Linked DNA regions of Homo sapiens. The protein of the gene in region 1 purifies or fractionates together with the protein of each later gene. This does not show direct contact. Each region holds a gene or a part of one and is shown in the gene's direction. Other genes may lie near its edges.

What was found. Proteins that work in one complex are often made in the same cells at the same time.
Region 2: the proteins of SMARCAL1 (region 1) and SULT1A1 fractionate together in Homo sapiens (co-fractionation; one large-scale study listed by BioGRID). This does not show direct contact.

What each region holds. Positions count from the first base shown.
Region 1 is NC_000002.12:216,429,484-216,432,983, forward strand, and holds part of SMARCAL1 (SWI/SNF-related matrix-associated actin-dependent regulator of chromatin subfamily A-like protein 1), read left to right. Parts: intron 1-3,234; coding exon 3,235-3,385; intron 3,386-3,500. UniProt on the Homo sapiens protein: ATP-dependent annealing helicase that binds selectively to fork DNA relative to ssDNA or dsDNA and catalyzes the rewinding of the stably unwound DNA. Rewinds single-stranded DNA bubbles that are stably bound by replication protein A (RPA).
Region 2 is NC_000016.10:28,607,245-28,611,544, reverse strand, and holds the start of SULT1A1 (sulfotransferase 1A1), read left to right. Parts: upstream 1-1,500; 5' UTR 1,501-1,614; exon of another isoform or gene 1,615-2,685; 5' UTR 2,686-2,689; coding exon 2,690-2,837; intron 2,838-2,941; coding exon 2,942-3,067; intron 3,068-3,156; coding exon 3,157-3,254; intron 3,255-4,300. UniProt on the Homo sapiens protein: Sulfotransferase that utilizes 3'-phospho-5'-adenylyl sulfate (PAPS) as sulfonate donor to catalyze the sulfate conjugation of a wide variety of acceptor molecules bearing a hydroxyl or an amine group.

The sequences.
Region 1 (3,500 bases):
GAGTTTCTTGGGAGAAGCAAAATGCCGTATTTGAACTAGCCTTCTCTTAAAAATATGGGAGTTCAAGGAGAAGAAAGAGGAAGTCTTGATAGTCTGTCTAGAAATAAGAAGCTGTTATTAGACAGTGTAGTTGAACATAGAGCCCTGTGCAAGGGAAGGAACCTAAATTAACAATGGCACTGACAAACCACAACAGCCTGCCTGCTCGAAGCCTGATTGTGGTATTTTGGTGAAAGCTTGGCTACCGTCTCTGGCAGGATTTGGGTCTCGGTGTGCCGTTTGGGCACAGTGCACTTTATTATGTTACCTGGCCCCAGCCCTTCCCCCTAATTCTTTTCTTCATTTCCTTCCATCTCTCTTACATAGCACACTCTGCAAAACCTCCTCTGGCATTGCCATTCCAATGCTCCAGCTGGTGAGATGTCCTTTGGGCCTTGTTTTAACCAGGCTCAGGGTGGTTTTTTCCTTTCATCTTTCTTTCTCTGGGCCTCTTTATTAAAGCTGCAGTAGAGGTTGCCCAGCCCCACCCCCTGGGCAGCCCCTGCCTTCAGCATCCAAGTTCTTCGTGGCACTGTTAGCCATCCTTGGGCCCACGTGTTGGGTGCTGGTTTTACCAGTTACCCCATTACCCCTGAGAGAGGCTCTGTGTGTGAGGCGCCCCAGGGCAGATCTGTTTCTCTCTCTGTGGCTCTAAAGTACTTGTAATCTTTCTTCAGAATTTTCTAAATAAACTCAGATTTTAACTTTCATAGTCTGAAGAGGTGGGGGTTTGGCATTGGGGGAGGAGGGCTGTCAATTCTATGTTTTGTTTTGTTTTCTTTAATGCAAGAACTACAATTGAACACACCCATTAATTTATAAAGCAAAATCTCTTAGAAATATCAGCATCTTCTAATATCCAAGTCACCCTCTTCAGCAGGTGAATGAATTGAGGCTTAGAAAGGCAGTCAGTTGCCTAAAGTTATTCAGCAGTCAGAAGTGGAGTTGGGGCTTAAATCTGTGTTTTCTGATTGATTAATTTCTGAGTATGACATTTTTTTCTATTGTATTCAACTGCCCTGTGGAGGATGACATTTACTTATGTTATTGTTCCTCTGTTATCCAGGCTTTTTCTGTCTTTGTTGTCATTTTTTGGCCACTTTGTTCCTTAGTTGGGCTCCCTCTAGGCAGGGGAAAAAGGAGAGAATGTGAAATTCAGGGGGTCCATTCTGCTCTAAGGATGCGGATAGACCAAACTTCTGGAAATTATAGATGGTAAAGCTGAGAAGGCTGAAACAAAAGACGCTCAAAGGGCGTGGGGCTCTCCATGGATTCCGTTGCTTAGGTACTGCCTGTCCTCGCTGGCCACCAATTTTGTAAATCAGAAAGTGAGGTAAAAAATACATCTTTTCACACCTGCCCTCCCCCCATCTGTCTGTGTTGTGGGTTGATCCCAGAAATGGTCCAGAAGATTTCATAGAGGTGGGTGTACAGGGAGGAGGCTGCGCCTGTTCTGGAGAGGTGAGGCAGCCCACTGCTCGGCTCCGTTCCTCCCCAGTGGAGGGTGAGGCCGCCAAAGCTGGGCTTTGGGAAGGGCTGCCCCCTCTCCTAGGCAGGCCCCCGCCCAGGCTGCAGGGAGAACAGAAGGGTGCCACGCCATGATGCCTGTTGTCCCCACACTCTACTGGCTTCGGGCTGCCTGGGGATTTGCTGCCCAGTTTTCCATCTTTGGAAACGGTGTTTCCAGGCAATTCAGAAAGGGCAAGTGCAGCCTAGACTTCTTGTCCGCCCTGCTAGCTGCTGATTAGAAGAGGTGACATTCTCTGTTTTCACTGTGTGAGAAGGAAAGAGAAAGAACTATCCCAGCGGCTTATTATCAGGATTCTGAGCAAATGATCTATTTTTCAGAGATTAGATGAAAGAAGACTAGTATTTGGCACAGAGGACCAGACATCTGGCACTTGGGATCCTTTTAGCTTTTCACTGTTTCATCATGCGACACGAGCAAGTCATTTTTACTGTTTGTGTTTTGATTCTTTTTCTTTTTGTGGAATAGTAGTTATGATAGAAGCACTTCCTTAGCACTTATGATGTTGCCAACCACTGTTTTCAGTATTAGCTTTATTAACCCTCCCACAGCTCCATGAGATAGGTACTGTTATTACTCCCTTCTTACTGCTGAGGGGGCTGAGGCATAGGGAGGTTAAATCATGTGCATGAAGGTGTACAGCTGCTGAGTGATGGAATTGGGACTCCAACCCCAGCCAATCTGGCTCTGAAATAGTGGAATACACCTTTATTCATGAACTATTAGCAAGGGATGCTGCACTTAAGGGCTTTAGGGTCCTGGAGGCTGCCATAGTGAAAAACTCAGTGCTGAGGTTGGTGCTTCCTGTTGGACAAGCACCCTTCCTCCCATCCTTTTCTCGCCTCTGTCCTCATTAGCAGCATCTTCTGTCTTTGCCAGCCCCTTTCTCTGCCTTTATGCATACTGAGTACTCTCTGATCTTCAGAAAGCCTTCTTTTCACCCTACCAGCTCTTCTTTCCTTCCTTCCTTTCTTTTTTTCTTTTTTTTCAGATGGAGTTTCGCTTTTGTTGCCCAGGCTGGAGTGCAATGGTGTGATCTCGGTTCATTGCAACCTCTGCCTCCCGGGTTCAAGCGATTCTCCTGCCTCAGCCTCCCAAGTAGCTGGGACTACGGGCATGTGCCTGTAGAGATGGGGTTTCACCATGTTGGTCAGGCTGGTGTCAAACTCCTGACCTCAGGTGATCCGCCCCACTCAGCCTCTCAAAGTGCTGGGATTACAGGCATGAGCCACCGCGCCCGACCCTTTCCTTCCTTTCAAGGCAGACTCTGGAGTGAGTAAGCATGCCCTCCTCAGTGCTAGTCCTGGACTCCCACCACCCTCCTCCATGTACGTCCCCTGTGCCCTGCCTACAGTGGGCCGAGGCAACTCCTCTCACTGGAAACTTCCTTCTTTGGCCTCCACGACCTAATCATCTTCCAGATCTTCTCCCTTTTGACCACATTCCACATTTTTCCTTTTTGGGCTTTCTCTCTCTCTCTCTCTCTTTTTTATTCTGCTCCCTATTTGGCCTATGTACCTTTCCTTCTGGGGAGCAAGTCTGGTGGTGGGCTGGGCCCGGGCTGGCCAGTGAAGTGGCCTTCACCCAGCAGTGCTGACCCACCGGACATGAGGGCAGATGAACTCATGCCCCGGGAAATGTGCCATCCTCACCTTGTCTGCCTTCAGTTTTGCCATAGCCAAAGGAGGCCGCCTGCTGCTCGCTGACGACATGGGCCTGGGGAAGACCATCCAAGCCATCTGCATCGCAGCCTTTTACCGGAAGGAGTGGCCGCTCCTGGTGGTGGTGCCATCCTCCGTGCGCTTCACCTGGGAGCAGGTTAATGGTCTTCAAATTGCAGTTTTCACAGAGAAGGTTTTCTTCAGTGTTAGAGTCATAAAATAATGGTTTGCAGACAGGGCCTAGGGATCTTTAAGGATCCTGTCTCAAGTAA
Region 2 (4,300 bases), on another chromosome or scaffold:
TATATTCATGAAGAGTCCAGGAAAAGGTAAAGATTTCTCAAGACCGTGGTGCCACAATTTACACCCAAATACAGGTGTTCCTGGAGCCGTCTTGGCACTGGTGGGTGTACGGTTTCATATGTTACTGATCATACAATGAGATCCTAGGTGAAACCTACATCAAATACAGCGCCATGTTGTGTCTGGTTGGTCGTAGCCAGCTTGGTCCTCATCCTATTTTTCAGGGACTTATTGGCCCTTAGCGCATGCAGCTATTTCAAGTTTCCTTCTTCTCCTCATGTGAAACTGCTGCCTGGGATTTTGTATTCACTTGCTACCACTCTATTAATCTCACATTCTCGCCTCTTTTCTGTGTCACCCCGTGTGGGTCCGACAGGTTGTTACTAGAGTGCAATACAAAGTCTTAGTCAAGGGAACCTCCTGAGGGTTGCTGAGGGCAGGGGTGGAGCTAGTAGCCTGAGGACCTGCCAGTCACGGGGATTCCTCATGGGCACAGAGGAGGGAGGAGGGGTCCATGGCCCTAGCATATGAGAAGCCTCTCCTCTGCCTGGAATTCCCATGCCTCAGCTTCCCCCACACTCCCACCTGTCCGCTTGCCTCTGAACTCACGCATTTCTTGGAAGTCTTGGGAGATTCACCTTTACTCAGATGGTTGTTTACCTGTCTCGTGCACAGCTTGACCTTGGACTTTAAAGTGAGGATAAAGAACGAGGAGGATGGGGGGATGCCCCCCTTCCACGGGGCCCTGTGGCTTCCAAACCTCGGCCTCCTCTGGTCTCTTGTCTGTGGAGCCTCCTTCAAACCCAGGGAAATAAAACCACCTGCCACGGGTTGTGGTTCTTCTAGGATCTTCTATCAATGTTCTCTGAGGTCCCCAGGAGCCATGAAGCTGGGGCTGACTCCCAGGGCAATGGGACTGCAGTGTCCTTGTTCTTTCTTGTTCTATGCATCCATGCTCTGCTCCACCCCTGCCCCTTCACTCTGCCCACACACATCCCTCTAGACTGGCCTTGTGGTCAGAGCCTGGAGTGCATGGGCTGCTGGGGGCCTGTGGGCTGCACTGGGCCAGAACCCCTGGCACCTTCAAGACTGGCCTGGAGCCAGCAGGTAGGTGACCTTTCCAGGGCCTGCCTATCCCAGCTTTCTCCTCCAATCCCTCCCCTCTCTTGCCTGGGTCAATTAGAGAGAGCTTGTCTGTTGGCTGCCTGGCAGGGTGGAGTTCAGGGGCAGGTCAGGAGCCCAGTGACAGCTCGGAAAAAAAAAAAAAAAAAAAAAAAAAACAGAAAAAAAAAACCTACAAAAACAAACCCACCATTGGGCCTTTCCCCTTTCATTCTTCTGTTTTCTACACAGCAAACTCAGTCGTGGCTTTGGAGATCACTTTAAGCTTGTCTCCAGCTGGCACACTAAGGAGGGTAATGGAGAAGCTCCCCCACCCCCAACCCCACCCCTTCCTTCCGGAAGCAAATCTAAGTCCAGCCCCGGCTCCAGATCCCTCCCACAGTGGACCTAGGAAACCCTCAGCTCAGAGAACAACCCTGCATTCCCCACACAACACCCACAATCAGCCACTGCGGGCGAGGAGGGCACGAGGCCAGGTTCCCAAGAGCTCAGGTGAGTGACACAGTGGAACGGCCCAGGGCGCCCTCACCCTGCTCAGCTTGTGGCTCTAACATTCCAGAAGCTGAGGCCTCTGGCATCCCTGCCCTTTCCCCATGGATATCCCATTTCAGACAACCCTGGCCTGCGTGAATCCCCCTCCCTTCCCTTGTTTGTTTGTTTTTTTCCCCGGGGAGGCCAGGTCTTGCTGTCACCCAGGCTGGAGTGCTGTGGGATCCTGGCCACTGCAGCCTTGAATTCCTGGGCTCAAGTGATTCTCTTGCCTCAGCCTCTGGAGTAGCTAGGACTACAGGCCCTCATCATCCTGCCTGGTTAATGTTTAAGAATTTTTTTAAAGATTTTTAGAGATGGGGTCTTGCAATGCTGCACCAGGTTGGTCTCCAACTCCTGGCCTCAGCCTCCCTAGGGTCTGGGATTATAGGTGGGAGCCACCCTGCCTAGGCCTGTGCTTTTGCTGAGTCATCAGAGTTTTGTTCATTCCCACAGCAGCTCTGGCCCCTAGTAGCAGCTCAGTTCCTCAATGGGCCGTGTTTGTCCTGGAGCCCAGATGGACTGTGGCCAGGCAAGTGGATCACAGGCCTGGCTGGCCTGGGCGGTTTCCACATGTGAGGGGCTGAGGGGCTCAAGGAGGGGAGCATCTCCACTGGGTGGAGGCTGGGGGTCCCAGCAGGAAGTGGTGAGACAAAGGGCGCTGGCTGGCAGGGAGACAGCACAGGAAGGTCCTAGAGCTTCCTCAGTGCAGCTGGACTCTCCTGGAGACCTTCACACACCCTGACATCTGGGCCTTGCCCGACGAGGGTGCTTTCACTGGTCTGCACCATGGCCCAGGCCCTGGGATTTTGAACAGCTCCGCAGGTGAATGAAAGGTGAGGCCAGGCTGGGGAACCACCGCATTAGAGCCCGACCTGGTTTTCAGCCCCAGCCCCGCCACTGAGTGGCTTTGTGAGTGCGGGCAAGTCACTCAGCCTCCCTAGGCCTCAGTGACTTCCCTGAAAGCAAGAATTCCACTTTCTTGCTGTTGTGATGGTGGTAAGGGAACGGGCCTGGCTCTGGCCCCTGACGCAGGAACATGGAGCTGATCCAGGACACCTCCCGCCCGCCACTGGAGTACGTGAAGGGGGTCCCGCTCATCAAGTACTTTGCAGAGGCACTGGGGCCCCTGCAGAGCTTCCAGGCCCGGCCTGATGACCTGCTCATCAGCACCTACCCCAAGTCCGGTAAGTGAGGAGGGCCACCCACCCTCTCCCAGGTGGCAGTCCCCACCTTGGCCAGCGAGGTCGTGCCCTCAGCCTGCTCACCTCCCATCTCCCTCCCTCTCCAGGCACTACCTGGGTAAGCCAGATTCTGGACATGATCTACCAGGGTGGTGACCTGGAGAAGTGTCACCGAGCTCCCATCTTCATGCGGGTGCCCTTCCTTGAGTTCAAAGCCCCAGGGATTCCCTCAGGTGTGTGAGTGTGTCCTGGGTGCAAGGGGAGTGGAGGAAGACAGGGCTGGGGCTTCAGCTCACCAGACCTTCCCTGACCCACTGCTCAGGGATGGAGACTCTGAAAGACACACCGGCCCCACGACTCCTGAAGACACACCTGCCCCTGGCTCTGCTCCCCCAGACTCTGTTGGATCAGAAGGTCAAGGTGAGGCAGGGCACAGTGTTTCACATCCATAATCCCAGCACTTTGGGAGGCTGAGGCAGGCAGATCACCTGAGGTTGGGAGTTTGAGAGCACCCTGAGCAACATAGAAGAACCTTGTCTCTACTAAAAATACAAAATTAGCCGGGTGTGGTGGCGGGTGCCTGTAATCCCAGCTACTCCGAAGCCTGAGACAGGAGAATCACTTGAACCCGGGAGAAGGAGGTTGTGGTGAGCCAGAGATCCCACCATTGCATTCCAGCCTGAGCAACAAGAGCAAAACTCACAAAAATAAATAAATAAATAAATATATAAATAAAAATAAAACTGTGGCACCTGTGGTGGCTCACTGCTGTAATGCCAGCACTTTGGGAGGCCAAATTGGGTGGATCACTTGAGCTCAGGAGTTACAGACCAGCCCGGGAAACATGGGGAGTCTCCATCTCTATAAAAATGCAAAATATCAGCAGGGCATGGTGGCATAGCGCTGTAGTTCCAGCTACTGGAAAGTCTGAGGTTGGAGGATTGCTTGAGCCTGGAAGGTCAAGGTTGCAGTGAGTTATTATCACTCCAGTGCACTCCAACTTGGGCGACAGAAAAAAAGAAAGACCACGGTCCTTTTTTTTTTTTTTTTTTTTTTGAGACTCTCTGTCTCAAAAATAAATAAATAAAATAAAATAAAATAAAATAAATCCCACAATAAAAAGAAAAAGCAAAGGTCCAGGTGTGGGGCATGTGAATCCAGGGAAGGAGGCCCTGGCTCAGCCCAGCTTTGGTCCTGTTCTTCTGGGAAAGTCGCCTCACTTCCTCCAGCCTTGTCTCATCTTCTGCGGCGGGGACTGTCTGCCTCTTGCTCTGATGACCAAGAACGTAAGACTCTTCAGTGTAGACCTAAGAAAGCTAGAGGGTGGGTCCTCACAGGCCCACAAAATTTGGTGGCGGTGGGATCACGGCTGGTGGAGCATGCCTTGCTCCAGATTGGGGTGTGACGCATTGATGCAGATTATATTACTATAGAATATGATGGTCTCAGGGACCAGGCAGGACTTT